Linked DNA regions of Homo sapiens: region 1 is linked to region 2. The links come from fine-mapping of genetic effects on gene expression. A gene starts in region 2. The other region holds a variant in brackets. All regions are shown on one strand. Distances are from middle to middle. Region 1 overlaps NAV1 (neuron navigator 1). Region 2 holds the start of NAV1 (neuron navigator 1).

Region 1 (15,299 bases), 180 kb after region 2:
TGTATATCTGGAGGCATGTGCATGTATTTTGAAACACCATATTGTAGTGGAAAGAACAAGGGCTTTGGAGTCAAAAAGACTTGTGATCAGTCCCCTGGCTCAAATTAAATAACATGGAAAATGCCTCGTGGTGAACATTGAGTAGCTGGGCATTATTTGATTTGTGTGTGCATGCACCTGTCTGTCAAGTGTATTTGATTGCTAGTCCTTTCCCAAAGACCCTTGACATGGACAGTATGCTCTCTCTGTGGTCTTGCATAAGAGCCAACAGTGTGTAGAAAGAAACACCATCCTACTCTGCAGATGCCCCAGTGCATGCTGGGACTATGCTGCTGTTTGTGGTAACTGTGAATTGCCGTGGTGATGGCTGGGTTGGGAGAGACTTGCATCTGTTCTGAGCCTGAGTAGCACACACATTCTCTCCCCAGTTGCTCCATTTTCAGGGAAAGGCTTGGAGGGCAGCCCAGGATAACATCATGAGCTCCTCCCCATAGACCTTGGTGTCGCCCTGGGGCCTGCTAGGAGCCCTACCTGCCCCCTTCCCCCCTCAAACCCTACTTGCGCGCACACACACACACACACACACACATACACACACTTCACTCTTGCAGCTGGACCCTGTTCTGTAGGAGCTAAGACAGCACGCACTCCCAGGCCCCCAGAGTAAGTTTTGGAGGGTGGCATCCTGGCTGGTATCATGTGAAGGAGAACGCTGTACTCTACTAGGACCTGGCTAGAGGTGGGTTGGACTGGAGAGTACCTTGTTCTAATTTGCACAAAGGTGCCACGTAAGATGGGAGTATTCTGAGCACGTCCTCCACTTAGGGGTATTGAGGAAGGGGATGGGCTACCAAGACTCCCTCTGCATCTTTGCCATGTCTGGGCTCTGTTTTGTCCCCAGGCCTGTCCCACACCCAGAGCAAAACATTTGACAGAGACACATGGAGGCAGCCTCCAGGGCATCTCAACTTAGCCAATAAAACAAGCCATTAGCCAGGCACGATGGCACACACCTGTAATCCCAGCACTTTGGGGGGCTGAGTCAGAAGGATAGCTTGAGCTCAGAAGTTCGAGACCAGCTTGGGCAACATGGCAAAACCCCGTCTCTACTAAAAATGCAAAAATTAGCCAGGCGTGATGGGGCATGCCTGTAGTCCCAGCTACTCAGGAGGCTAAGGTGGGAGAATCGCTCAAAACCAGGGAAGTTGAGCCTGCAGTGAGGCGTGATCATGCCACTCCATCCCAGGAGACAGAGTAAGACCCTGTCTCCAAAAAAAAAAAAAAAACCATTGAACTTTTAGGTTACTTTTCTCATTATCACAGAGTAGCGGAAGCCCTAGATACCTTCACCCCATCCGGGATGCTCACCCTCACAGGAGATGGTGAGAAAGGGGTGAAGCTTAGTTATGGGTTGGTGGTCAGAGGTGGGGTAAGGTGAAGATCAGGAATGGATGAGGGTTGAGAGGTGAAGTAAATTCCCTTGGAAATGTAACTTACTCATATTTTTAAGCTAAAATATAAAAATTCACCTTCAGGGTCATGGGTGTGAATGTCAGATTGGCTCCTCAACCTAGGCCCCCTCTGCAGCCTCTGGAGCTCTGGAGGCCTTTCTTTTGTACACAGGTAAGTCCTCTTGGCCTGAAGCTGTGGCTGTACCACCCCGGGAATGTGTCTGTCACCTAGCAATGTGGAGGAAGCCAGACTTACCAGGGGCCCCAACCCTCCAGACCCACCCTGGGCTGAGCCTTGGAGAAGCAGAGCGGCATACCCATGATGGCCACCAGGGGCCACTGCTGGGGCACAGAGGGAGCTGCAGGGTGTAGCCTCTGCAGGGCCCCTCCAGCCTGGTAGCAGAGACCAGATCCTGGTCACCCCCAAGGAAACCAAACCCTGCCCTAACCTCCTCCCCTGTATGCCCCAAATCTATACCTGTGGGGAAGCTGCCTGGAGTCAAGTGTTCTTCCATTCGCATCTCTGTGATCTCCAGCTAGTCCCTACTTCCTGGACCTCAGCCTCCCAGCTCTCCAGAGACACAGCAGGATTAAGTGACTTTCAAGGACTCTTGTGGTTTGGCGACTCTGGGAGACTCTGAAATAGTCCCACCACACTCTGCTGATGTGGAATTGAGGAAGGGGCTAGGATAGAGGTCTTTGAGGGAAGAGATATGGAGAAAGAGGGTCAAACCTGTGACCTAGATGTCTATGACTCCCATCTGGAGCATCTGGGGCATTAGGGAATGCAGCATGACTCTCCTGAGGCTACTGTGTGGTTTAAACATTTTTCCTTAAAAAAAAAAAAAAAAGACATTTTCCTAACGTGACATGTATGTATCCCTTTACTTTTTTTCATGGGTTTTTGGAAATTTTAAAAAATTGTGGTAGCATCCATTCTTGAAATGTTCACTAAGCATCTTCTTTGTTTTTTTTTTTGAAACAGGGTCTCACTCTGTTGCCCAGGCTAGAGTATAGTGGTGTGATCATAGTTCATTACAGCATTGAACTCTTGGGCTCAAGTGATCTTCCTGCCTCAGCCTCCCAAGTAGCTAGTATTACAGGCTTGAGCCACCTGGCCAATTTTTTTATTTTTATTTTTTATATAGACAGGATCTCCCTGTGTTGCCCAGGCTGGTCTCAAACTCCTGGCCTGAAGCGATCCTCTGGCCTCGGTCTCCCACAGTGCTGGGATTATAGGCATGAGCCACTGCTTGCAGCCTAAGCGCCTCCTATACAACAGTCACCATGCTTGATGCTAGTGGTGCAGAGATGCCCTGTGATATATCAAGACAAGTATGAGTTTCTTCCTGGGCTCAACTCTGCCTTGTGCTACATGCTAGGTGTGTGACCTTGGGCAGTTTACTTGTTCTCTCTGAGTGTCAGTTTTCTCATCTGTTAAATGGGGCAGTAGCACAAATCTCCCAGAAATGTTGCAAGGATTCAAGTAGATAATGCATGCAAAGGGTCTGGCACACACAGAAGTCTCTGAGTAACTCTTGATCACCTTCCTCTTTGGGAATACACACCCCTTGGAGATGTGTGTGCCTGTCCCTCATGTCTGCCAAGCCCATAAAAAGCATCACCCTGGGCCAGAAACCCACACCTTGGCACCATGTTCTTAGTCCCCACATAGGCATTTTAGAATTCAACTTTATTTCTTGGCGAGTCTAAAAAATTGACCCTGTCTGTGTTTCATGCCAAGCCATCAATTAAAGCCATGGAGCAGCTTACAAGGTGACACTTGCCAGGATAAATAGGCATTGGCGGCCACGGAAGTGATGCCAGGACTGGGGATAGAGCTTAGGCCACTGGCATGGTGGCCTGCCATTTGTCCCTGATCCTTGCCACCAGCATGGAGGCCTGGATTCATGGTGCTGACCATGAGAGGATGTGGGGGTGGAGAAGCTCCCCCTGGGAGGGGAAAGGAGGGATGGCTGGGCTTGGGTGTGGAGCTGGTTCTCAGAAAAGGTGCCCAAAAGGCTCTGGAGAGGGCATTGCAGGCTCCCTGCCCGCCCCACCCAGCCTCCCCTCCCTGACAAGACAGTCAAGCAGCTGCCTGCCAGCCGGCCTGAGCTTAGTCTTGGGGGAATAAAAACCTCTTGAAGAGATTCAGAAATGTTCCCTTTGGCAGCTAAAAAAAACCTTACACTCCTGCTGAGTCTGTGGGCTGAGGAGGGACTGAGGGGGCGTTTGGCCTCTGCAGCAGCGGCAGAAGGCTTGCGGATGGAGGGGAAAAGGGAGCAGCCTGGAGAGCCAGAGTTCTTGGGTTTTCTCTGTTGTTTTGCCATCATCTTTCTGTCACTCCCTGACTCTCTCCTGCAGATTGTCTTTTAGGGAGGTACTGGGGGACTTGGTTCCATTCATGACTTTAGGTTCCAAAATGAAAGATAAGCCATGGGGCAGGGCCAGCTTCTCTTCATTATACTGTCCTTAGGGCCCAGGGTGGTGCCTGATGTGAAGTAAGTGCTTGATAAAGATTCATTGGATGAACTGAAGGAAGGAAGAACATTCTTTGAGTTCCTTCATGCTCAAGCACCTCTCAGTCATTTGGACGTTATTTTCACCCTGTTTGCTGTTGTAGATTCTCATCCGTCCAGGCTAATATCTGGACACCAGGGTTGAATACAATGGCTCTTGGTGATTTGGGATTCTGAGGATTGGGCCACACCCATGCATCCTTCTCACTCAGGATTGCACCACTTGTGTGGGGACTGCCCAGAGCTCACTTCAAGCTCCAGAAAATGACTGCTCATCCCTTCCACCTCCCACCAGCCACCTCACCTTTAGGAGACTATATCTGAACTAACTTCCTGGGACCCCATAGAGCAACCCCAGATATTACCAGTCAGTGCCTGGGTTTAGGTGTACTGAAGCCAGCTTGTACCAGTTCCCCAGAGCCAATTGTTAGCCCCTCTTCCTAACTCTGTGGTCAGTGACATCAGATTGGTAGATTGAAAGTGGCCATGATAGGAGGCTTTATACCAGGGAAATTGGCAAACACCACACATCGGTGTCCCCTTCCTCCGAAAGCCAGTTGTTAAACATTTACCAGCACAACCCTGGATAGGGGGTTTCAGGCAGATGTTCCAGCTCATCTCAACCACGAGAAATCTTGCCCAGGACCTCTGCTATGAGAAGCAGGGCCTCCCCAAAACAAAGCCAGAGGTAGAGGCAGTTCCTTGGGGGCTCTGAAAGGAGTGCACAGACACAGAAAGCCATGCCTGTACCCCCTGCCAGGATCTGGGGTTCAGAGGGCTCAATGGCACATGTCCAGGGCCTTTGAGAGGGCCCATTCTGTTGGTTGTCTTTGGGAAAGGGAGGAGGAAGGTGACTATCATGGCCCAGGGACTAGCCTCCTGGGGACACTGTCAATCTCCACTTCCTGACCCCCAGGATCCCAGCATTAAGTTCTCTTCACTCACCCAGCTCTTCCTTCTCTCCCTACCAGACCCAGAGTCCCAGAGAAAGAGGACAGTGCAGAATGTCCTGGATCTCCGGCAGAACCTGGAAGAGACCATGTCCAGCCTGCGAGGGTCCCAGGTGACTCACAGGTAAGCTCGAGCTGCAGAGAGGGTCATGCCCTCTGCCTTCCTGGCTCTCCACCCCATTCTGGAGGGCAGGGCCCCCGGGTCCCTCCACACCTCTGCCAGGTCAGCCAGGTGGCCTGATGCGTGGAGCCACTGCAGAAGGAGGAGGAAATCCATTTATCTCAACAAGAGAAGCTTGGCTTTGTCTTCTGTCTGCTTGTGCCTGAACATTTCATTTCATTTCAGCAAATCAGCTTGAAAATCACTAGCTTAGGAGCCAGGAAGTGGAAGCCATTACACAGCTCAATGTGTGATCTTTGATAGTCAGTCTCCTTCATTAGACCTCTGTCTCCTCAATCTGTCAAGAGAAGGTTTACTAAATGCTCTCTTCCTGTTCCTAAGTCTCCATTAAACTAGGGGTCTAGAATCAATTCCCTTCTCAACACCTGGGTCTTTTCACTCTTGTGTCAGTTAGGTGCCCCCTGGCCTCTTCTACGAGCCACTGAGGGAGGCTTGAGTGCTCAACAGGGCCCACACAGTGTCACCCAGCTCCATGCCCTGTTAGGTGTGTCCCCCTAGCCCACTCCCTGCAGAGACCTCATAGCCTCCAGCTGCATGGGGCACTCAGCCTTCCCACGGCACCTCTCTCTGGAGCAAAGTCCTGGCCACAGGCTCTGCTGTGACTCAGAATTTCCCTTGCTGGCTCCTTGGACTGCCCAGATGAGCTCATGCTGTCAGCTCCAAGTGGGGCAGAGGGCTGGGCTAAGCTCTGGGGACAGCGGGAGGCAGAACAGACAGCCAGATTGGGAAATCATGGGGGGTGTGGGGCAGGAAGGCTGTGTGAGGGCTAGGAAGCCTCCCCAGTTAGACTGGAAGTAGATTCCTCTCCAACTCCTGGGGCTGGAAAATTAAGAGCAAAGTTGGGACACAGGGGCAGTGGAAAAGGACTTTCTTTAGCCCAGGGTGTGGCCATTTGGGATTCTGAGGATGGGACCACACCCATGGACATATTTACATACCACCAATGACAAAGAACTCATTACCTTTCTTTTTTTATTTTTAACATAGGCTTTTTAAAAATATTTTGTTATTATTTTTAAAGACCGAGTCTCATTCTGTCGCCCACTGCCTCAGCCTCCCGAGTAGCTGGGATTACAGCTGTGTGCCATCACGCCCAGCTAATTTTTGTATTTTTAGTAGAGATGGGGTTTCACCATGTTGGCCAGGCCAGTCTCAAACTCCTGGCCTCAAGTGATCCACACGCCTTGGCCTCCCAAAGTGCTGGGATTACAGGCGTGAGCCACCGCGCCCGGCCAACTCACTACCTTTCAGTCACCCCGGTGCATTGTGGGATTGCAGCAACTCTGATGTGGAACTGCACTTAGTCTTAAGTAGCTTTCAGCC[G/A]TTGGCTGTAGTTCTTCCTGCTTAGATGACCCTTCTCCTTCTCCTTCCTTGTACTACTCCTCCCCCTATCCCCAGCCCATGCCCGCATCTTGGACACTCAGCCCTTTACTCCCAGACATCTCGAGTATTTTAAATGGTAAGATAAATCAAAACTCTCTGGGGATTACCTCTGCTCAGGCCAGCAGAACCCTGACTACTGAAAGGGAGGTGACCAAGGAAGTCCTGGAAAAAGGTGGATGGTGGGGGCTCCAGGACCCCCTTACATCTGTCCCTTACTGCCATCCCTCATAGCCCCAAGCCCCCAGCAGGAGCCCAAGTGAAGCAGGGATCTGGCAGAGCTTGGCTTATCAGTTTAGGACCCAGCGGATGAAATCTTGGACATCTGCCTTCCCCCATCCAAGGAAATTGTTGGAACATCTCTCAGCACCAAGTCACCCACCAGCCTCATGCCAAAGACACCAGAAAGTGCTTAGTTGCTGAGAGGGCCACACCCCAAATGACTCACTCACAGGAGTAGGAGAGAAGTAGCAGCTCCAGCCTCCTGGTGCCACTGACTCAGAGCAGCCAGCCCCCAGTCCCTCCGTTAAGCCGGACAGCTTGACCCTAGGCAGGCGCTATTGGTTTTCTGCTTCTAGTGGGAAAGGGGAGGCTTCAATCAAGCCTTTTGCATAATGCTGACTGGTTTAGGGGGAGCGTCTAGGGCCTCTGGCTTCTGCCTCCCTTTATAGGAAAGGAACCAAGAGCCCCGGAGCTGGTTTTTCTGTTTACTGTGGACCTAGAGCCACTTCCTCTCATAGGCTTTGGTTTATATTATTCCTGTTCCACACTGGTAGCCAAAACAATGATTCCCTGACTTTTTATGGCTCTTTTTTTTTTTTTTTTGAGACAGAGTCTCACTGTCTCCCAGGCTGGAGTGCCTTGGCATGATCTCAGCTCACTGCAACCTCTGTCTCCCAGGTCAAGCGATTCTTCTGCCTCAGCCTCTGAAGTAGCTGGGACTACAGGTGCGTGCCACCACACCGGCTAATTTTTGTATTTTTAGTAGAGATGGGGTTTCACCATGTTGGCCAGGCTGGTCTAGAACTCCTGACCTCAGGTAATCCACCCACTTCGGCCACCCAAAGTGCTGGGATTACAGGTGTGAGCCACCACGCCCTGCCGGCTCTTTTACTTTTTAAAGGGCTTTCTATCAATGAGCCCTTCCCTTAGCCCTGGAAGTAGACAGGATATATACATACTCCCTGGGTTAGAGAATGAGGCTGGGGGCAGGGAGGCACCTGCCAGAGTCACGCTGGCTGATGAGGGTAGGTTCTGTACTCTGCATGCTCAGAACCCATGCCAGCTGTGTGCCAGGCACAGCGCTGGGCACTGGCTCCCCAGAACACACACAAGCTTCATCCTCGGAGCTTATGGTCCAGTGTGTGCTTCCTGCAAGGCTGTTTTCACCCAGGAACTCCCAGGATAACTGGATTCCATTCCTTTTCAGAAGCCTTTACTCCTGTGCTGCTTCCTCAATTTCTACTGGTTCATTTCCCCCAGCGAGGAGAGTCTGGGTCAGACTGTGGCTGGAGAGGAAATGAAACTGTGTCCTCCCCAGAGAAAGGCAAGCCTGAAGGGTGGGTGCAGGGCTGGAATTCAAGAACTGAGGATCTGAGCTAGAATCCCCCTCACCAAGCTTAAGTCTAGAGATGTCTAGAGATGTGTTTGGGGGAACTGAAAAAAAAAGAGAGAGCTGTGGAATAGGGGAAGAGGCAATTTTAGTACAAATAACTAAACAGGGGCAGGCCAGGAATAGAATTGAGGAACCCAGATGCTGAGTGCAGCCCTCACTCCCACACTAGTATATAACCATGGTGTAGGCTAACTACCCAAACCAGCTTCCCTGGAGATCCCCGCCACCCTCTTAGTATGGTTAGCATCATCCTCTTCCTCCCCTGTCTCATCCCATGGTCAAGGTCAGCTTGCTTTTATCAAGCACTTACTGCACAGGGCGCTGGACTGAGTTTTCTGATGAGAACTTCCTTGCTTTTTACTCACACATCCATCGTGGGTTTGCTCCTCTTTGATTCATTCTAGAGCACCAGCTCTAGGCCAGGTGCCATGCAAAGTGCTGAAATACCGTGGTGAGTGAGCAAGGCAGACAAAGTCGCACCATCACTACAGTCTCTGGCTTCGGGGCACATCGGTTTCTGTCCAAGGAGATGTGATGTCTAGGTCCACAGTAATTAGAAGCCGAAACAAGACACTGTATGAGGCAGAGCTGCAGAACACAAAGGGGTTCCTAAAGGGCTGCCAGAAGCAGGGTGCAGTGGCTCACGCCAGTAACCCCAGCACTGTGGGAGGCCGAGGTGGGAGGATTGCTTGAGTTCAGGAGTTCAAGACCAGCCTGGACAACATGGCAAAACCCCATCTCTATAAAAAATACAAAAATTAGCCAGATGTGCTCATGTGTGCCTGTCGTCCCTGCTACTTTGGGGCTGAGGCAGGAGGGTCACTTGAGCTCGGGAGGTCAAGGCTGCAGTGAGCCGTGTTTGCACCACTACACTCCAGCCTAGGCAACAGAGTGAGACCCTGTCTCAAAAATAAGTAAATAAGTAAAAAGAGTTGGCAGGGCCAGGAGGGGAGCCGCTGGGCATGGACACGGTCAGGAAGCCCTCCAGAGGGCCAGAAGCAGCTGCCACTGATTGCCCTGACTGGCCAGGGCCTCCCCCATCTTGCCCACAGGACTACTGCCAGGACCCCAGCACACTCAGTTTCAAGAGCGTTTGGATCCCTCAAGTTCTGCTGGTTAGAAAATAAGACCGTATTTTCTCAGGTCCAATAGAGACAACTTTGGAAATTTTTCTTCTTTTCAAGGAACTTGATAGAAACCAGAATGGAAAAATCAATGTCCCACTCCCATTCCAGCCCCCAAAGTGGCTAAGCAATGGATGTGTTCACAGAGCAGTGATTGCTTGGGCTCATGTAACTCATGTCCAGCCACAGATTGCCTCAGTTGCCCCAGCTTTCTTGGCCACCAAACCCCGTTTCGCTTACTTAGTCCTGTCTGGCTTAATTAGGATAAGTTATGGAGACCCTGCCTGAGGCTGATTTGGGCTGGCCCCACTGCTAGGCTAGATGGAATTATGGGTCTCAGCCTGAACCCAAGTCCAAGCCACCCCTTCAACCAGATTCCAGTTGTATTTCCTCTCTGCAGCCCGCCTGGCCCTATCTCCTTCCCTAGTCCCCCAGGTTCCCCTAGTCTCAGGCCATCCAGCACTCACCTGGGCATTGCTCCCTTGGCCTGGTCTAGCAGGGCCTGAGGCTTGAGACTCTGGACATTTGGCTTCACCCCCATGTCTGGTTCCCTGTGTCCTCTCCTTTGTCCAGTTAAGGCTGCTTCTATTCTCTGGGGAGGCTTATTTCCCCTGCTGCCCTAGGCCTGTGGCTTGGACCAGTCTTACTGGGGACCTGCCATACATCCCAGATTCCCAAAGCTTTTCCTATACTCTCTGCACTCTACTTCAGCTTTCCTATATATGATGTTTGGGAATCAGCTAGCCCTCAGCTAATTACTAGAAGAGAGGTGATGGACACACCATTAACAAAATGACCAAGGCCTTCTAAGCTCAAGTGACCAGTCTCTCCCACTTGCCTCCAGGTCTGTTGACCCCTTCCATATACCAGGCACTGTGTTCTGTCTGTACATATGTGATCCTTACAACTCTATAAGGTAGATGTTATGCCATTATCCCCATTGTACAGATGGGGAAACTGAAGCTTTAGTTATTTACTTTCCTTGGGCTCCTTTACTAACCAATACCAAAAAAGAATTCAAACCTAGGTCATATTACACAATCTAGGGTCTTAACAGTATACAGGATTTCTTCCCTAGCCACTTAATTAAGATCATTTCCTTTGTCAAACAGATAACGTATCACAAAGGTAACACACAACCAGAGGCCTCATGGAGGAGGTGGAGCTTGGGCAGGTGGGGAGGAGGTGACAGGGCCTGTGGGTGGAGGGGAGGCATTGCTGGGGTGCATGTGAGGGGACAGGGCACACGGCGGCTGTGCCAAGGACTAAGTAGTGCCTTCTGCTCTCCACCCAGCTCCCTGGAGATGACCTGCTACGACAGCGATGATGCCAACCCACGCAGCGTGTCCAGCCTCTCCAACCGCTCGTCCCCTCTGTCATGGCGCTATGGCCAGTCCAGTCCGCGGCTGCAGGCTGGTGACGCGCCCTCTGTGGGTGGGAGCTGCCGCTCGGAGGGGACGCCCGCCTGGTACATGCACGGCGAACGGGCCCACTACTCCCACACCATGCCCATGCGCAGCCCCAGCAAGCTCAGCCATATCTCCCGCCTGGAGCTGGTCGAATCCCTGGACTCGGATGAGGTGGACCTCAAGTCCGGCTACATGAGCGACAGTGACCTCATGGGCAAGACCATGACGGAGGATGATGACATCACTACCGGGTAAGCGCAGGGGCTTCTTGGATGGCGGGGGAGGATGGTGGAAAGACCACTGGGATGCGACGCCTTAAAAGTGGAGTGGAACCCAAAACGGGTTTTGGTTTGCTGTGCTGCTATGAAAGTACACAAAAGTGTGCTGTGTACACTTTGTGATTGCCTCTGAAATTCGATGTGGTTTATTCTAGACTTGGGTGTGGTGTAGGCAGGGCCTACATCCAAGGAGCTGATTGGTCAATGAAGGCGCCTCCCTCTCATTGGTCTCTGTGGCTGTCATTCTGTCACCCTCCTCCCTGGCTCTTTGCCCTCAATAAACTGGCTCAAAGAGCCTTGGAAAAGCATTTTATTCCCAGCTCTTATGCGAACTCTGTGTAGACCCTGGACAACTAAATCTGCTTTCCCATTTGCAAAAAAAAAAAAAACCAAAAAGGTTATTAACATCGTATCTGTCTACCTAAGAAGAGAAAATGAGAGCTTGTGGGTGAAATCGCTAGTCAAACAGTGAGTAGCAGCAGTAGCTCCACTTCCTTTGCCAGGGGTTCGTAACCCCTCAGTTCCCTATCCGACCCCTGTGGTCCTCAGTGTCTGCTCCTTGGGTTTCTTCCTGTGCAAACCTTCTACCAATCATGCAACTTCCTAATCCCTACCCAGCGTGTCAAATCCTTCTTTCCTGCCTTTTGCCCTGCAGGGACCCTCATCTTCTTATATTTTTCTGCCTTAATTGACAGAGTTGTGCCTATGCCTTCCAACCTTGGAAGAGTTGGCCAGGACCCCAAGCCCCCAGCACTTCATTCTTGCTGTCCTCTCCTGGTCTGGGAGGATAGAAGAGAGGATAGGAAGAATGAAGTGCTGGGCGCTTAGGGGGATCCTGGCCAACTCTTCCAAGCCCAGAGACAGGAGAGAGGCAGTGGTTCTGGAAGCTTCTCTGGAGCACCTCTTAGCCTACTGCCACTTTCACTCTCCCTTCTTGGTTTGCTGGTGCCCTCCTCCGCCAAGGGGCCATACAAGTAGCAGCAGCATCCCTTCCCTTCCTTCTCAGGGACTTAATATCTTACTGCCAGGGCCTGCCTCTCCCCAATAAAAATCCCAGACTTCAAGGGAGTGGAAAGTAGCCTCTCCTCGGAAAAGACGAGAGCCAAGCTCCAGGCCATCCACTGTTCCCCACCCCCATCTCCACCCCTGCAGAGAACTTGGAGGGATCTGGTTAGGGCTTGTCCAGCTGATGAGGCTGCTCTGGAGCAAAACAACTGACGCATGAATGGAGTTGTTTACTGCCTGTTAAATCCCAGGGGCCAGCCCAACCTCGCGCTCACGCTCAGATCCACCAGCCTGGAGCTGGGACCAGAGAAAAGCCATGCAGTGCACAGATCCTGAGCTCCTTCTGTGGTCAGAGGCCTGTGCTGGGCAGGAAGGAGAGCCAAGGTGTGTGAGGAGCTGCTCCACACAGCCTCTGCCCTAGGAAGCTGCCAGGGACTGCCTGAGGAAGTGTCAGGTCACTGCCCTCCTCTGAGAATCCCAGGAGGGTGCAGAGGGTGGCACAAGCCCTGCGGGGCTGAGTCTTTAGAAAGTCCCCCATGTGTTAGAAGAACCATAGCCCTAGACCCTAGGGAGCTTCCAGACAGGGGAAGTGATAGGACCCCTGCCCAGCACAGCTCCCAGATTGATGGAGGTGACGGGGCCCCTGCCCAGCACAGCTCCCAAACTGATGGAAACGAGATCCCTCTGAGAGCCCTTCACCCCACCAACCCACCTGATGGCCATGGCAGAAAATACCCCAAGTGTTGCAAGGTACAGGAGCCCTGCTTGGAGACGTCGCAGTCTGAGGAAGGTGGCAGGACTTCCGGCTCTTAACTAGCTGTATGAGCTTGAGCAAACTGGTTCACCTCCCCAGGCTTTCTTTCATTTGTCTATCTGTCAAATGCAGATAACAGTAGAACTTATCTCAGGGTTCTGATGAGGATTCAATGGGTTAATATATGTAAAGTACTTAGAATAATTCCTGGCTCATTGTAAATGCTCACTAAATGATAGCTATTATTTTTGTTGCTATATTATTTTTGTTGTTATTAGAGTCCCAGACTGATGGAGAGACATGATTCTTACCGTCAGGGGTGTGTAGTCTGACCAGAGTCCCACTTACTCAGCATCAGCAGCAAAGACAGATCTAGTAGCAGCTGGTCAATCCCAGGGGCATAGATAATAGGCTGTGGGGGCATGGAATGCAGGGGGAAAGGGTAGGAAAGACCCCCTTTATCCCCCCTCTAACACCCTTGCTTTATCCTCCTTCCTCTGGACAGGATGTGTGTTCCCGAATCCATTTTTTAAAAATTAGAGTTCACCGAGACTAGCATGAATAAGAACTTGCCTTCCCTGCACAGCCCCCAGCTGTAAGCCTTGGGAAGCCTGGAGTTTGCATGGGGAACACAGAATCAATTGTTGGCATGGCAATATCCATAAAGTGGACCTTCCTGTAAACTGTGATGCTAGTTTACAAGATCATTTCACATGCATTTTTTATGGTCAACCTTCAGTTAGCAGTAACCCTTAACACGAGTTTGTTAACTTCCCTGCTGGGACTGTAAACATGGCCATCTGAGAAGTCAGAGTTGAAGGGAATCAACTTATAATCCCCAGTAATTTAATGTAAACAGTCACTCCTCGATTATGGGTTTTCATGGTTAAGTGTTGTTGTTGTTTTAATTAGTAACAGGGCAACCTGGATTCCAGCGACTCTTTAAGTGAACATGCAAACCTGAGCTGTCGTTGCTCAGCCTCCTGTTGGTCTTCTCATCCCCACTGTGGTTTCCATCTAGATGTTATAATTTAGAAAATGTCCTATTTCTTAAAAAACTGTTTTTCTAGTCATTAAAGGGGTAGGACTGTTCCCTGTAGGGATAGCTTCAGCGCTTCCCTCCACACTGCGACACCCCTGCCCACCCATCAGCCTCGGCCCACTGCAATTTACTTTCCCACCTCCCAAGAGCTCCCAGCACTGGGCCAGCAGAAAAGCTGATCTTTCCCCACTGGGTGACATAATCGGCTCCAAGCTATCCGAGTGAGCCATAAAAGATGACAGTAATTCTGGCGCTTTCTCCACACTCTGTTTATCTGCGGGGGGATCATCCCTTTGACGGCTCTTCCCAAGCCCCTGTTCAGTCTCAAGTCAGCTCTCCCTACTCCCTCCAGTGACCAGGCCCCTTTCAGGTCATTAGTCAGCAAACCAAAGAAGGCAAATTCTTCAAACTGAAGTCAGCAAACTAGAAGGAAGAAAGTGACTCTGATGCTGCTACCAGAATAATCATACATGTTTTTTAAAAAGGATTTATTTTTAAAAATTGTGGTTATATATATATAACATAAAATTTACCATTTTATGTTAACCATTTTAAAGTGTACAGTTTAGTGGCATTCAGTACATTCACACTGCTGTGTAACCATCATCACGTCCATCTCCAGAATTCTGTCTTCTCCCCAAAGAGAAACTGTACCCATTAAACAGTAGCTACCCTTTCCTCCTCCCTTCAGCTCCTGGGAGCCACCATTCTACTTTTCGTCTCTATGAATTTGACTACTCTAGGTAACCCATATAAGTGGAATCATACAGTCTTTGTTGTTGTTGTTGTTTAATGACTGGCTTATTTACTTAGCATAATGTCATCAGGGAGCATTTATGTTGTAGCGTTAGAATTTCATTCTTTTTTCAGGTTGAACTCTATTCTGTTGTAGGTATACGCCACATTTTGTTTACCCATTCATCTGTTCATGGGTTGTTACCACCTTTTGGCTATTGTGAAGAATGTTGCTCTGAAAATTAGTGTCCAAATATTATTCAAGTCCCTGCTTTCGGTTCTTTTTGGGTATATACCTGGAAATGGAATTGCTGTATCATATGGTAATTCTATGTGTTTTTTGTTTGTTTGTTTGTTTGTTTGTTTTGAGGAACCACCATACCGTTTTCCACAATGGCTGCACCATTTGATATTTCTACCAGCAATGAATGAGGGTTCTAATTTCTCCGAATTCTCCCCAACATTTACTATTTTCTGTTTTGTTTGTATTTATAGTAGCCATCCTGGCCAGGCGCGGTGGCTCACACCTGTAATCCCAGCACTTTGGGAGGCTGGGTTGGGTAGATCACTTGAGGTCAGGAGTTGGAGACCAGTCCGGCCAACTGGTGTGGGGTGAAACCCCATCTCTACCAAAACTACAAAAACTAGCTGGCGTGGTGGTGCGTGCCTGTAATACCAGCTATTCGGGAGGCTGACACAGGAGAATTGCTTTAACCCAGGAGGCGGAGGTTGCAGAGAGTCGAGATTGCACCACTGCACTCCAGCCTGGGCGACAGAGCGAGACTCCAACTCAAAAAAAGAAAAAACCCATCCTGATGGAGGCGAAGTGGTTATCTCATTGTGGTTTTGATTTCTG
Region 2 (14,932 bases):
TGCTATAGACTCTCCTAGGTCTCCAGCTTGCTGACTCACCCTGCAGATCTTGGGACTTGTCAGTTTCTACAATTGCATGAGCCAATTCCTTATAATAAATCTCTTTCTCTCTCCCTCTCTCTATTTCTCCCTCTCCCTCCCGCCTCTCTTTCCCCCTCCATCCCCTCCCTGTCTATCTATAGTGTACATTCTATTGATTCTGCTTTTCTGGAGAACCCTGACTAATGGAACAGATATGTTTGTTATATTATTCTGTATACCTTTTGCAGGCCTAAAATAGTTCATAATAAATTTTAAAATAAATAATGAATGAATAGACGTTAAAATGTCAGATGCTATAGAGGGCAAGTAAAATGAGAACTGGAATATGTACATTAGATTAGCTATTAAGAGGCCCATGATTGCCTTTGTAGGAGTGTTCAGAGTGGAGGCCTAATGGTGATGGGTTGTAGAGTGATAGGGGGTCTACACACAATTCATGGAGTTTAACAACAAAGTGAAAAAGAGCTCTGGGTCTAGAGTAGGGTGCAAAGGAGAGAAAGGGTTGTGTTGTTGTTGTTGTTGTTGTTGTTGTTGTTTGAGACAGGGTCTCACTCTGTTGCCCAGGCTGGAGTGCAGTGCAGTAGTGCAGTCTCGACTCACTGCAACCTCCGCCTCCTGGGCTCAGGTGATCCTCCCACCTCAGCCTCCCGGATAGCTGGAACCACAGACATGAACTAATTATTTTGTATTTCTTATAGAGATGGGGTTTTGTCACCTTGCCAAGGCTGGTCTCGAACTACTGGATGCAAGCAATCTGCCCGTCTTGGCTTCCCAAAGTGCTGGGATTACAGGGTCAAGCCACCATGCCCAGACAGAGAAAAGAGTTTTAATAATGGAAACACTTCTCTGTGCTGTGGGGCTTCCATACTAATTCTGTTGGAATTATCAGAGTCCTGGTCCTCCTTTGGTCGCTATGACTATTCCAGTAGAGATTCTGGAAGACTTGAACTTCGTCTCTGTGGGTACAAAGTGATTTTTTTTTTTTTTTATGTTTCACTCTTGTCACCTAGGCTGGAGTGAAGTGGCACGATCTCGGCTCACTGCAACCTCTGTCTCCCGGGTTCAAGCAATTCTCCTGCCTCAGCCTCCCAGGTAACTGGGATTACAAGCACCCACCACCACACCCGACTAATTTTTGTACTTTTAGTAGAGCCGGGATTTCGCCATGTTGGCCAGGCTGGTCTCGAACTCCTGACCTCAGATGATCCACCCACCTAGGCCTCCCAAAGTGCTGGGATTACAGTCGTGAGCCACCACACCTGGTCTTAGTAAAGATTTTTCAAAGAGCACAGTGCTACTGTCTCTCATGGAAAGAAAAGTATTAAACCCATGATGATTACATCTTAGTCTAAGGGGAATATTAAACCCACAATAAATTAAGCTAAAACTTCACAAAGACTCTGCAAGGCGTTGGGGCAGGACAGGGGGTGGGTAAGGAAGGGGTTGATTGTAACTGGAAAATCTTGGGCTACTTGTGGATGGTGTTTTTTTTCTTTTCTTTTCTTTTCTTTTTCTTTCTTTCTTACTTTTTTTTTTCCTCCTAAAGGTTGAGCTTGGCTAAAGGAGTGTTGCTAATGGTTTCCCAATTTAGTTTCAAGGGGATTGGCAGCAGGGTTTTCCAGGCCACAAAGGCTGAAGGGGGACATACTATTAGTCTGTCTCACTCCTCCCAGAAACTCAGTCTGGGTTTACTGTAATTTCATCTTAGTCTCGTCAAAGGCACTCCAGATGAGGAGATTCTGAGCTGGGGTATTTCTTCCTACCCCTCCCAGACAGATTGCAAGGTTTTTCCAATACTGCATTCTCCCTGGGGCTCTCCCTGGTTGGCGTGGAGAGAAAAGCGCCAGCAGGGGTCAGCAGTGTCCCACATCTGGCCGGGAGCTGCTTGCCACATGTGCTGTTTCTTCTGGCACGGCACTGTCAGAGATACTGGGGAAATTGGCGAGCACCGTTCCATTGAGGCGTTAGCATCATTATGAGCATCGCAGGCTCAAGATTCCTCTCCCTGAAAGTGGGGTGGGCTGGATGAGTGGAGGGTGTGTTCTTTATAAGCACTATGTGGGGTGTGGGTGTAGAATCCAGACATCAGCAATGCCAACTCACCATCTGGTTTTCTATCGGGAGGTTTTTATGTGTATTGGCGTGAGCAATATATTGTGTCGGTCTGGGTGTCAGAGGACGCGTGTCAGAGTTGCCTTGTTGAAATTTTCCCAGGGACCTGGGATTTCTGGATTCACCCGGTATCCAGGCTCTCCCAGAGCGGCACTTTAGCTGGCCAAGGCCTGGAGCAGAGTGTGTGCAGCGCTCCCACGGCCGCCTGCCCGGGCCTGCCCCCGACACATGCTTAGTGGAATTCTCCCGTGGCAGCCCAGAGTCTCCGGAACGAAGGTCTCCACAGCCAAAGCCACGCAAGAGGCTCTCCTGCTCTCATTTCCAGACGCACCCTCATCCTTGGCCTCTCCCTGCCTCAGTTCTCTTTGACTCCTCCGGTCCTTGTTGCTGCTCAGCTCCAGGGCACCCCCACCTCCCAGGACAAGTCCCCTGACTTTACAGCTTACAGGCCCAGAATAACAGATGGCCAGAGGCATCCCATTCAAGACTCCCCGCCTCCTTCCTAGCTCCTCAGTCTCTCCCACCCCAATGTGGTGGTGCCCAGGGAGGGGGTCAGGAAACCACAGAGGGCCTGTGGGAGGCGTACAGCTGGGGACAAGCGTGGGCTGGAAGAGGAGCCCAGTCTGTAGCTGAGACTCCCAGGGCCTCATGACCTTCCAGGCAGCCTCCACCGCTGCTATGACAGGCAGATGCCCGACTTTCCACCTGCTTTCTGACCTGGCTTTGGCAAGGCCTGAGCACCTGGCCTGCTTTCCCAGGAGTACAGTTACAGCAGCTGATCTAGGGAACAGGTGTGGGCTCCGTGTCACAGCTGCTGCTGAGCACATCTGTACCCACAGTGAGGAGGCTGCAGCTGCAGCAGGGCCTGTCAGTCACTCATACTCTCCCCGGAGTTGGGCTGGGGGCACTGAAAGGGCCAGGGGTGGAGAGAATCTGAGATAAGCATTCACAGAGCACCTTGCTCCTAGAGATCCCAAAGTGTGACCCCTGACAAGGTTTTCCCACAGTCAGCCTCACTGGCACCAGCAGCGTGGGAATTAGGGCTGGATTCTCCCCTTCTGCCTTGCTTCCCAGCCCTTGGGCCACAGTCAGCTCCTCCTCCTTCCTGGCTAGCTCAGCTCAGCTTTTGCAGGATGGAACTCTGAATCCTGGCTTCCAGTGGCTCTCCCAGAAAACTAGGAGGGAAGTGCTTGGAAGAATGGCTCTTTATTCATGCAAATGATTTCTTGCCATTTAAGAGCCTCAAACCACAAAATCAATTAAAGAGAAAAGGGGAAGATTTGGGGGTCTGTGCCAGCCACTGGATGCAATGCTTTACCTCCATCATCTTATCAAATCTTCCCAGCAACCCTACTGCATAGCTATTATCAAGATCATTTCTGTTTCCCAGAGGAGAATTCAAGGTTACACAGTTAGGATGCAGTGAATCTGGGATTTGATTGCCGTCCTGACTCCAAAGCTTGCACTCTGACCACTGGGCCACACTGCCTCAAATCTCCCATTCTCTGTTAAATCCAACATCTGAGCCCCATTCTTTCTCCCTTGCAGGGAATCACCTGCCTACCTCCACCTCATCCATTTCTCACCACAGCTGGATTCACCTCTACAGCCTTTACCTCCAGTCGTATTTGGCAATTCATCCTTTTCCAGCTCCTATCATCCTCCCCTACCCTCACCAAAGTGGACATCGCAGCCTCTAAATCTGAACGGAGCTGACACCTAGCACCCACCCTCTCACCAGCTACCTCTGGGTTCCCCCACCCGGTATTCCCTTCCTCACATCCAAGCCTGTTCCCCTCAGGCCCTGTCATGGCCTGAAATAGTCTTTGCCCCTGTCTACCACTCTCCAGGGTCCCTCTTGACACCTACTTCTGCTTTCCCCTCTCAAGACACCTTTTCTTGGCATTTTAAGACTATTTACTGACTATTTATTGATATAGGAAAATGCTTACAGAATGTATTAGGAGTATCTTACACTTTTTTAATAATTATGTATGTAATACATGAATAGATTCTCCTTGTAAAAAACAAACTCAAACACACAGAAAAAGTTAATGACTCCCTTGATGACTGCCAGTTTGAAGTGTTTTTCCAGACCTTAAAAAAATATACTTTCATACAAGCATATGTACATATAGAAAGATATACTTTAATGGGGCATCTTTCATCATAAATTGGATCATAATGTGCAAATTGTTTCACAACTTTTATTCTCTGTTTGTTTTCAGACAGGGTCTCACTTTGTTGCCCAGGCTGGAGTGCAATGGCACAATCATGGCTCACTGCGCCCTCCACCTCCCAGGCTCAAGCCATCCTCCTATCTCAGCCTCCTGAGTAGTTGAGACAACAGGCATGTGCCACCATGTCTGGCTAATATTTTAATAAAATTTTTTGTAGAGACAGGTTCTCCATATGTTGCCCAGGCTTTGATTCTTCTAATGCTCGGTATTAAGACTCTATGACTGTGTATTATACATAGAGTTTACATGTGAGTAAGTTCTGGGTGGAGAGACACTATTCCTTGCTAGGGCCTTAAGAGTCTGGCTGCAGCTCTGCTATCACATGGGCAAAACCAGCTACATAATTTACAAGATCCAGTGCAAAATAAAAATGTGACATTTCTTGTTAAAAATCATTGTGAATTTCAAGATGGCAACAACAAAGCATTAAACCAAGCAGGGGGCCTTTCTAAGCTTGAGCCCCCGTGTGACTGCACAGGTCATATGCCCATGAAGCTGGCTCTGCAGAGACTAGCTGACCGTTGGACTGGCTGTGTCCTGGATTCTTTTAGTTAATGCATTCCGTGTTCTGACAATGGACATTCCTGTCTCAGCCTCCACATTGGATCTGGTCCCCTGATTCTGCACCCAACATTCCTCAGCCACATTCCCTGCTCCAAAGCCAGAGCTCTATGTATTCCAGCACAAGCAAAGTCCCAGGGTCCATGCCTGCCAGTCAGCATTGCTCTGGAGGCACCCACAAAGATGGCAAAGATGGGGGGTGAAGGGGGTATTGGACAATGATATTCCTGTGCCTCGAGTGGAAAGTCTCTCAGGAGATAAGAGAGGACTGAAGTACCAACCAAGAAACCCGGGTTTCATTCCCAGCTCTGCCACTAAATTTACTGTGTCCTTAATTGGCAAGTTGCTTAACATCTTGGCACTGTTATCTCTTTATCTGTTAAAGGAGAGAGTTTGATTAGATTGTCTTTAAGACCATTCCCACTTCCAGCTCTAAAAGTCTGTATTTAAGTGACTCTAAGAGACTGTAATAATAATAGATAACATTTGTTGACCATTACCTTATGCCATTTACATGTTGATTTAATGCTCATAACAACCGTATGAGGCAGGCACTGTTATTCCCATTTTACAGTTGAGAAAATTGAGACTCAGTTTAAAACATGCATGGGGAACAAGGTAGCTTTTTGGGGTGGTGGAAATGTTCTAAAACTTGGTTCTGGTCATGGCTGCAGAACTCTGTAGATTTAGAGTTGTATATTTCGAGTGGGTGAATTTTATAATATGTAAATTGTACCTCAATAAAGCTGTTGAAAAGAAATAAAGAAATGTGCTGAACTAGTACATGATCAAGCTCTCCACACTGCTATGGAGACTATCAAGACTCCTTTCCTCTGCATATATGTAGTATTTGAAAACATGGACTCAGGAGCCAGACTCCTTCAGTTCAAATCCTACCTCTATCACTTACTAGCTGAGACCCAGACAAGACACTTGACCTCAATTTCTTTACCTGTAAAGTGGAGATAAAAAGTGGTACAGATTTCATAGGGTTGTTGTGGAGATTAAATGGGTTAATATATGTTAAATGCTTAGCATAGCAGTTGGCACACAGCAAATGCTATATAAGTAGGGACTATTATTATCTTCCATACCACAGGATTGCCACAGCCAGAACCAGGCTTCTTAAAGGGGCAGGTTTTCTCCCTGCAAACCCAACCCCTATTCTCCTGGGCCCCTTAAAGAAACACCTCCTCTTCAAAGGCCATCTTTGGAAAAACACCACGATGGCTTTCAGTACATCTCACTTCCTGGTAACAGAGAGAGAGTGAGAAACAGCATCTTCCCGATAAGGCAGTGACTCGCTCACTCTCGTAAAACATTCATTACTCTGACAGCTTTTCCCCATGGACTCTTTCTCCCAGGTCCCTGTAAGCTCCAACAGTCAACACAGAGGGCCCTTCTTAAAGGGGGCCCAGGGCCAGTCATGAGGCCCGAGTGGCCAAGGATGGAGATGCCTGTTTTGCCCATGTCCAACCCCATTCCACTAGCCTAGGAAACCCCTCACTGGTTAATGAATCAAGCTAGAAAGGACAAGGATTTTTAGTGGCCAGTCAGATTTCTATCACTGAAAAATGGGTTTTCAAGCACTGAGCCCATAACCACAGTGAATTTGACTGGGGTGGGGAGGTGGGGCGGGGTTGGGAATATGAGCTGATGCTTTCTGTTTGATAATCCCACTTCTGCTTATATGTGAGCAGCACTGCAGAAACCATTTTCTCCTCCATGATCTCACTGAATACTCACCATGCCCTTGGTAGGTGGGTATTCTTGTCCTCTGGGTGTCAACACTCCCTTTTACTGATGAGCAAACTGAGGTGATGCACTTCAGCCAGCATCAGAACCAAGGCATGGAGTCAGGTCTTCTGAAGCTGGGCCCAGTGTTTTTCCACTGTGCTTCAGAGGAGGAAGTCAGAAGCTGCCTCGGACTCCTCCTTAGAAGCTCCAGTGACGCTTATTAAGTGCTCAAGAAAATAAAGCAATGTGCTATCTTCATATTCCTGCCAAGGACCTTACAAACTGCTCTGGGAGCCCCAAACAAGACAGTCCGAAGGATAAAGACAGTCTCCCTGTGGGCCACGTGGAACGCAGGAGCTGTGAGTGTGTTCAAATCCTCAAAGTCCCATGTCAGATAACCCAAGAAACAAATTAGCATTGGTCCACAGACCTCAAGGCGGCAGGAAAACAGGCAAAGCCCCCAAAGAAATCAGGCTGGGGCTGAAAATGTCACTTGCCATACTTCCTGGGGTTCCCAAAACTCTCATCTCGTCGGAGGCCGGATCTGATACTCTATGGGAGTGACAGCAAGCTTCTGGGCTGATTTTTTAAAACTTATTTGTCAGGTTGACATTAATCCTTTCGCTACCCATCTTGTCCCAAAGCAGGATTGGCTCTAAGCTGTGGAGGAGGGGAACAGAGGGGCTGTTGGGTTTTAAGGAGCCTCAGTGAGGCCAGCAGGTCCTGGAGGCCACCTTCTCGGTGGGGAGTGGGGGTACAGGTGACTATGCCAAGGGTCTCCTGCAGTGAACCTGAATCTCCCTCCTTCCATCACTCACAAATCATTTCACGCCCCAGCACCTCTCCCACTCTCTCCATCCTCCCCTCCCCACAGCGAGGTCCTTGCCTTTACCTCTTATTGATTTTCATATTTAAGGAAAATCCATTTGCTAGACTCAGAGCAACTGAGTCATCACTGTGTTCAGACAAAAACTACTCACAAAGTAGGCATTTGGCAGAGGCCACTTCTGGGATGGGCGGGACCCTGTTTCTTACCCAAACAGTGCTCTGTCCAGAGTCTCTTCTGGCTTCTCCTCCCTGCCGCTCTGTCCTATCCACTTTCTCTTTCAGTAGCTTTCATATCCTCTGCCTGTCACCCCAACCAGACTGGCCCCTTTACTCCTTCCTCCCTCAACCTGTCCATATGCTATTATGTTTGCCTACACATACAGGTTCACTGTTGGAAATCTGTGAGTGGGACATTTTTCTGAATTTTTATTTTAGATTCAGGGGGTACATATGCAGGCTTGTTACCTGGGTATATTGTGTGATGCTGAGGCTTGGGGTACAAATGATCCCGTCACCCATATTGATTGGGACATTAGGAGCAGGGTGAGGGAGAACTTGTATGAGCAGCCACTCATAAGTGGGAGAGAAATATTGATCCTGTGTACTGATAGAAGAGATCTAACCCTTACGAAATTATAGCTTTGGCTTTCTTTTCCATTCTGGGTAGCACCCAAGGAATGACATCATCCCAGCATTACCAATGTGGATGGGGGCTATGCATCCAGCCTCACAATGGGTCAAGGAGTCATTTCACCTTCTGATAGTCATTTGCATACCTACTGTGTGGTCCTTGGTCCCTGGGGTCCCACCTTTTGAGCTCTCAAGAAAGGACAGTGCTTCTTCTTAAAGGACTAGGCTCCCCTTTGCAGGACTGGGAAGAGCACAAAAGGATTCTAGCTAGCACATCATTGAATGCCAAACTGGGCGCAGAGTTACATCTCCAAGAGTTAGATCTCCAAGAGTTAGATCTCCAAGAGTTAGTTACTCCAAGATCAAAGTAACAGCTAATGTTCACTGAGCATTTACTATGTGCCAAGCACTATTCTAAGTGTGTCACCTATAGTATCGCATTTAATCCTCCCAACACTCTTAGGAGATAGGAACCATTATTATCCCATTTTACAGATAAAGAAACTGAGGTAGCTAGAGGTTAAAGAGTTCAGTAAGTTCCCATGGCTAAAAAATCATTGATCCAGGATTTGAACTCATGCAGTCTGCCTTAAGAGCCCACACTTCTAGTCTTTATACAGAGGGTAAGGGTGTCACTCTGCAGTCCACCCCCTTATCCCGCGCCAAAAGGCAGTTCACTCCCTTCATGGACAAAAATCATACAACAAATCTTTTTCCCTGATCAGTTGGGAACTTCTTGAATGTCACTGCTTGTCCATTGTCTGGTGTCTCATCTCTCCAAATTCAAAGCCACTGTGGCCTTACTGACTGTGTGGGGCGTTCAGGGAGGACTCAAGGGCTCTCATCCTGACTCTGCTCACACTGATTTTGCTGGCAAAGAGCTGTGAGACCTCCCAGGGAGTAGGCAGTTTTGCTTTCTATCCATCAGTCCTCCAACTTGCAACCCCATGGCCCTGGGAATAGATCAGTCCTCTTATTTGTTGGCAGGAGCAGGGGAATCTGCTGGGTCCTTGGCCACAGCTACTCCCTTTCCAAAGCCTGCTTCAAAGCTCAGGTCATCTGGCTTCCTTCTGCCTTCTTCCTGCAGACCCTGGAAGTCCCCAAGCCAGGAGGCAGGGGGCTTGCACTGCTTCTGCAGTAGGTTCTGGCTGAGGGCCTTCCTCCCATTCACTCTCCTCAGGTCCTGTCATTTCCTCTCTCCTCTTCTTCCCCCTCCTCCCACTCCCAAGTCCCTGGAAGAAGGAGGAGGGGCATCGGCTGTCTGGAAGGTGGGGAGAAGTCACTTATTTTACTGAGCACCTACTATTTGCGGGGCACTTGCGGGGCCTCCCCCTCCTCTAAGACAGCTCAGACAGCATGACAGTTCAGTGGGGTGGAGAAAGAAAGGAGGTGGGTGCCCGGGGTCAGAAGTCGGGTGGAGAGGCTGGCCCATCCATCTGTCCCCTTCTCCTAAAGAACTGCGGCTGAACCAGCGAGCGGTACCCGGACGACATGTGGGGGAGGGAGGAAACCCGGCCTGGAAGTGGCGGTGGCGGGTCCCCGGGCAAAGGAAAGGCTCAATTGTGCAAAGGCTTCCTGCCCTGCCAGCTCGCGGGTCCGCCACCGAGCAGCCGCCTTTCTGCGGCCAGCCTGGGAGGCGGGACGGGAAGGCGAAGGCAGCAAAGGGTTACGGGAATAGCTTTCCAATGACAAAGTCTGGAAGGGACCCATGCCTCCGCCCCTCTGCGGGTTAAACTGGCACAGTGCAGGGGGAGGAAAGCCAGGGCGATCGGACGGATTCTCTCCTCCTGCCCGCCCCCCGGCCGCCAGGCACTCCCCTCCTGGGCCCGCCGTGGAGGCAGCCGGCGTGTGCCTGGGGCAGCGGGTCACGAGGCTCCGCCCCGGCCGCCGTTCCCGAGGGGACGGCACTTTGTTCAGGATGCCGCCTCCCTCCTCATTGTGGGGCCGGGGCCGGCGGCTGCCCTAGTGCGGGGCCCGAGGCTGGAGTGCGCGGCGGACGCCAAGCCTGGTGCGAGGGGCCGAGGCGGCCTGGGGAGCCCCGGGAAACTTTGTGCTCGCGAGAAGCGGACCCCGCACCCGCGCTGCCCTTGGGGATGCGCGACTCTGCGCGGCTGCGGCGCGGACCCGGAGCCCGGGCGGGCAGGCGCTCCGGTGAGTGGCCGGCGCGGGGCGGTCGCGCGGTCGCGGCGCTGAGGGTCTGGCGCTTCCCGTTTTGCGAGGCTTGGCTGGCAGGTCCTGCGAGGCCGAGACCAAGTCTCGGGGTAGGGGAGGTTGGTGCCCGAGGGAGGCTGTGGGCTGGGCTCGGGAGAGGCGCTGGAATAAATAACAACCAAGATGCTCGCGGCTTCCCGGGAAGGTGTGTGCCCTTTCGACCCCTATGGGACTGACTGCGCGTTTGATTCTAGAGTTGACTCTCCGGGGGGGCTGCCTAACTTCAGTCCCTCTGAGCCTCAGTTTCCTTGTTGTGAAATACCCACAATTTAAAGTGCGTTGAGATCTTATCATGAGACACCAGGTGCTGCGTTCTTATACTCGCACCCACACGGCAAGCACACACCCTACCCGCACCTCTGCCTTTCGTTGAAGCAAGAGTTAACTCCTCCCATCCCAGCAGGAGCCAGAGGAACAGCTGGGGCAGGTGACCTCGCGGGCCGTTCCAGAAAACGTTCCCCGCACCCCCGGGATGCGCCGGGAAGCGCCCTCCCGCCAATCTCCCGGAGGCCGTCCTCTCTGGCGCCCGCCCAGTGCGTCTGGGAGCGGAGAAAGTGGTCCCGGAGGAGAGGGGAGAGAGGAGAACGCAGAAATTGGGTGATCACGGGGAGCTCACCTGAGCGCTCCCGAGGCTTGGGCTCTGGTCCCTGCTAATCCCCAGAGCCGATAAAAACTGGTCATAGGATAAAGAAGCAGCTAAGTTTGCAGCGGGCAGAGGGGAGGCAGGAACTGGAGAGGACGCGAGTGGCGGGTGGCGGGGGCGGTGTGTAGGGGTGACGTCCACCCGGCAGAGAGGGTTCCTTGTCCCCTGGAGCCGAACACAGGAAAATCAGCTGGTGAGTCAATGGGACTTTGTTAGGATAGTCACAGGGCGCAGCTGGCGCCGGCTTAAGGGAAGAGCTGGATCCCCCCTTGATAACATGCTGTTTATCTGGCTTCCTGTTTCAATGATTGGGATACCATTGGCTCGTTCAAATTCAATGCTGAGAAGCCTGTGGGCACGTTCGTTCACTGTGCAAAAGCAGAGGGCTTGCCTGGGTTTTCATCTGTGGGCTAGCTCTTGTTCCCCCTACATGAAGTCCCCGGCAACTCACTTGTAATGGGACTGGAGACTTCGCAAAAAGAATGGCCTCCCCAGGAGGAGGATCTGACGATCTGACACTGCAGAGACCTTGGCTTCCTTTAGGCCAGAGATATATATGATTCCAGCTTGCTTATGACATTTTTTTAAATCCTGCTTTGACTTTTTGTTGGTGTGTCTTTGGGATTGACCTAAGAAGGGAGACAGAGGGAACAGCTCTATGGATTTTGTCTTCTAAGATGAGCTTCCTAGTAGTATGTGCTTTCACCATCAGTTTTTAGGGGAAGTTTTCAATCATCAGTTTGTAGTTCTCTATCTGGCTGTGTTGCTAACCACCTGGATGATCAGAGAGCAAATAATTCCTCATGTCTCTGTCCTGGTTTTCACTTCTGTAAAGTGGAGCCAGGAAAAAATCGCTACGGTTGGAAGAATAAAGAAGGTTTTTCAGATTTGGGCTCCAGCCCCTAGGGTCTATTTCCTGAACTTTCCAGGTGAAAGAGAACACCAGGTGAAAGAGAACACCATTTCCGGGTGAAAGAGAACAGCCCCTGATCTGAACTTCTTCAGCAGTTTATCTGATTTCCCTTGGGGCAGGTCTCACATTCTGCTTTGCATTTTTTGTTTTTGTTGATTGTCAGTGTGCCATGCTTTGTATTTTAGATATTTGGGTGTTTGTGCACATGCCTATCTTCCTGTGAGTACCTTCCAGCCAAACACCCTATCTGACCACCCACAACACTCAGCACACAGTAGGCACTTTATAGATGCTTGCCAAACTAATAGAATTGGGGAGAAAAACTAAGTAGCATTCAAAGGCCTCCTATCTCATTTAAGTGCCATTTATTCATTCTTTGGGAGTTAATTTGCTCCCCCAGACCCCCTCTACTTCTTTTTCCCTCAAAAGCAGTTCATAAAAATGTTGATTTGCCCATGGGTAAGTAGGCAAGCTTTGAATATTTGGGCTTTTTCTGGGATCTGGCTTCTTTGATAAACCTTGGCCTGGGGAAACTGAAAACAAGAATGCTGTTTTGGCCAGGTGCGGTGGCTCATGCCCGTAAGAGGGGCGGATCACCTGAGGTCAGGAGTTCGAGACCAGCCTGGACAACGTGGTGAAACCCTGTCTCAACTAGAAATATGAAAATTAGCCGGGTGTGGTGGCAGGTGCCTGTAATCCCAGCTACTCGTGAGGCTGAGACAGGAGAATTGCTTGAACCCGGGAGGCAGAGGTTGCAGTAAGCCGAGATCATGCCATTGCACTCCAGCCTGGGGGCCAAGAGTGAAACTCCATCTTTTTTTTAAAGGAGTGCTGTTTTTCCTTTCTTGCCTAATCTAGCCCCCTCCTGAGTCCCTGTGAACCTCTGGTATCAACTCAGTTTGGGCCCAGTAGAAAGGAGTGGCCTAGAATAGAAAAATCTCCTATCCATCTTTTACAATTTGTCTCTATTTTTGCCTTCCTATTTCCAATCAGTGTCACTTCCCTCTTCTTTTAAAGTTCTTTTGACTTCTTGAAGGGTTTGGCCTTTAAGAAAAACCAGAATGTCAAAGTTAAAAGGATCTCCACTCCTCCCAACCCCTGCTCTTCTCCCCTTTACAGGCAAGAATCAAGGCCCACTGAAGGGAAGGGATGGGCTCAGAGCTACACAACTGGGGTACTGCAGAAGCCCGCCTAGAATGCAGGGCTCCTGGCTTTCAGTTTAGGGCTCATTCCCTTTCAGCAAATCACTGGGAATTTTTATCTTCCTAGCGTTTCCATCTCAGCAGATGTTACTTACCTCTTAGCTAGAGAGAGGAACAGAAACATATTAGGGTCAAGACAGCTATCTCTGTGATGGAAGCATCTATCAACTTTTCGAGTCTCTGGAACATGGAGAGCTAAGAAATGTGGCAATACTTGGCAAACACTTCGTCTTTCTGGCCCCTAGTCACACACAAAAAATAATAATTAAAAACACTTTTAGTTCCTTCTTCAACTTAAAAATACCCCTCCAACTAGTCTAGCGAAAAACACCCTCCACAGTAAACCGTTTCCTGGGCCTCATCTGTTCCCTTAACCTCCTGGGAAGGCTGACTCAGGCCTGATTTCCTCCGAGAGGCCTGCGATTTTGCTTCCCAGCATCCTGTGACTCTTGAGACGTGAAGCGAGGCAGGATGGCTGAGACCCAGGCCACTCTGACCTGCCTGTGGATGTGGTTCAGGTTCTTACACATGTCCTGTGCAGTTCACACTACCACCCCATCAAATCTATTTGCTCTACTTAATTTTAATATGAGATGCACTAATATGCATATAAAATTAAAGGCTCTGATGCATGTGCCTCTGCCAAGGACCGTTACTAACAAGATGATTCCACTTCAAAAGACTGCAAGACTGTTCTGATATCCAATCCTCAGATGCTCTGAAAGCTTTCATAAATGGAATTGTTTCTTAATTTCCTTTTTGGCTTGTGTATTACTGGTGTGTAGAAACACAGCTGATTTTTGTGTGTTGATCTTGTCCCTTGCAATTTTGCTGAATTTATTAGCTCTAGTAGCTTTTTTGTTTCTGGATTCTTTGGGATTTTCTATACATAGGATCATGTCAACTGTGAATAGAAATAGTTTTACGTCTTTCTTTCCAATTTGAATGATTTTTATTTATTTTTCTTGCCTAATTGCTCTGGCTAGAACTTTCAGTATAATGTTGAGTGGCAGTGGTGAAAGCAGACATCCTTCTCTTGTTCTTGATCTTAGGGGGATTTCTTGATTTTAGCCTTTCACCAGTGAGCGTGATGTTAGCTGTGGGCTTTTCATAAATGTCCTTTGTGTTGAGGAAATCATCTTCTATTTCTAGTTTTCTAATCATTTTTTTTTAATCACAAAGGGGTGTTGAATTTTATGTCAAATGCTTGTTTTCTGTATCACTCGAGATAATCCTGTGGCTTGTTTTTTGTTTCCTTCATTGTGTTAGTGTGGTGCCTTACACTGATTGTTTTTCTTAAGTTGAATCACTCTTTTAGTCCTGGGATAAATCCCTCTGAATTTTTTTTTTTTTATCTGCAAAGTTTCATTTTTTTTTCCCCTGTAAAAAGACAACAAAATTTGACTAAGTGCTAACATTTTACATTAGGATGGGTTGATGTATTTAATTATACTTTTCATTATAATTAGTGTACTTTAAACATCTAACAATTATATTGTGGTAAATATGTATAACCTACAATTTACCATTTTAGCCACTTCTAAATGTACAGTTCAGTGGCATTAAATGCATTTGCATTGTTGTATAACCATCACCTGTAGCCATCTCTGGAACTTTTTTACCTTCCCAAACTTAAACTCTGTACTCATTAAAGAGTAACTCTCCATTCCCCTTCCCTCCTCCCCAAGGCCCCGGCAACCGCCATTTTACTTCCCATCTCTATGAATTTGTGAACATTTTTTAATAACTAGAAGTTAGGCATTAAAGGGTTAAAGGGCTGTATCTTCCTGTCTTCCAGTTTCCCACCAACTCC

What was found.
Region 1: its variant is fine-mapped to the expression of NAV1 in whole blood (TOPMed, PIP above 0.99).

Annotation. Positions count from the first base shown.
Region 1 is chr1:201,707,876-201,723,174 of GRCh38, forward strand. NAV1 (neuron navigator 1) reads left to right here. Exons shown (of 34, transcript NM_001389617.1): 6 at 4,942-5,044; 7 at 10,515-10,880. The region is part of intron 2 of IPO9-AS1 (IPO9 antisense RNA 1); the gene reads right to left. MIR5191 (microRNA 5191) reads left to right here and starts at 11,633; the gene lies at 11,633-11,752. LOC124904483 (a long non-coding RNA gene) reads right to left here. Exons shown (of 2, transcript XR_007066790.1): 2 at 14,180-15,299. RefSeq lists enhancers at 5,054-5,742, 5,586-5,880, 11,749-12,395. The variant G/A (reference allele first, on the strand shown) is at 6,425.
Region 2 is chr1:201,529,042-201,543,973 of GRCh38, forward strand. It overlaps NAV1 (neuron navigator 1), which reads left to right and starts at 10,086. Exons shown (of 34, transcript NM_001389617.1): 1 at 10,086-10,301. It overlaps LOC124904484 (a long non-coding RNA gene), which reads right to left and starts at 11,104. Exons shown (of 2, transcript XR_007066793.1): 1 at 10,978-11,104. It overlaps CSRP1-AS1 (CSRP1 antisense RNA 1), which reads left to right. Exons shown (of 2, transcript NR_160747.1): 2 at 4,383-5,743.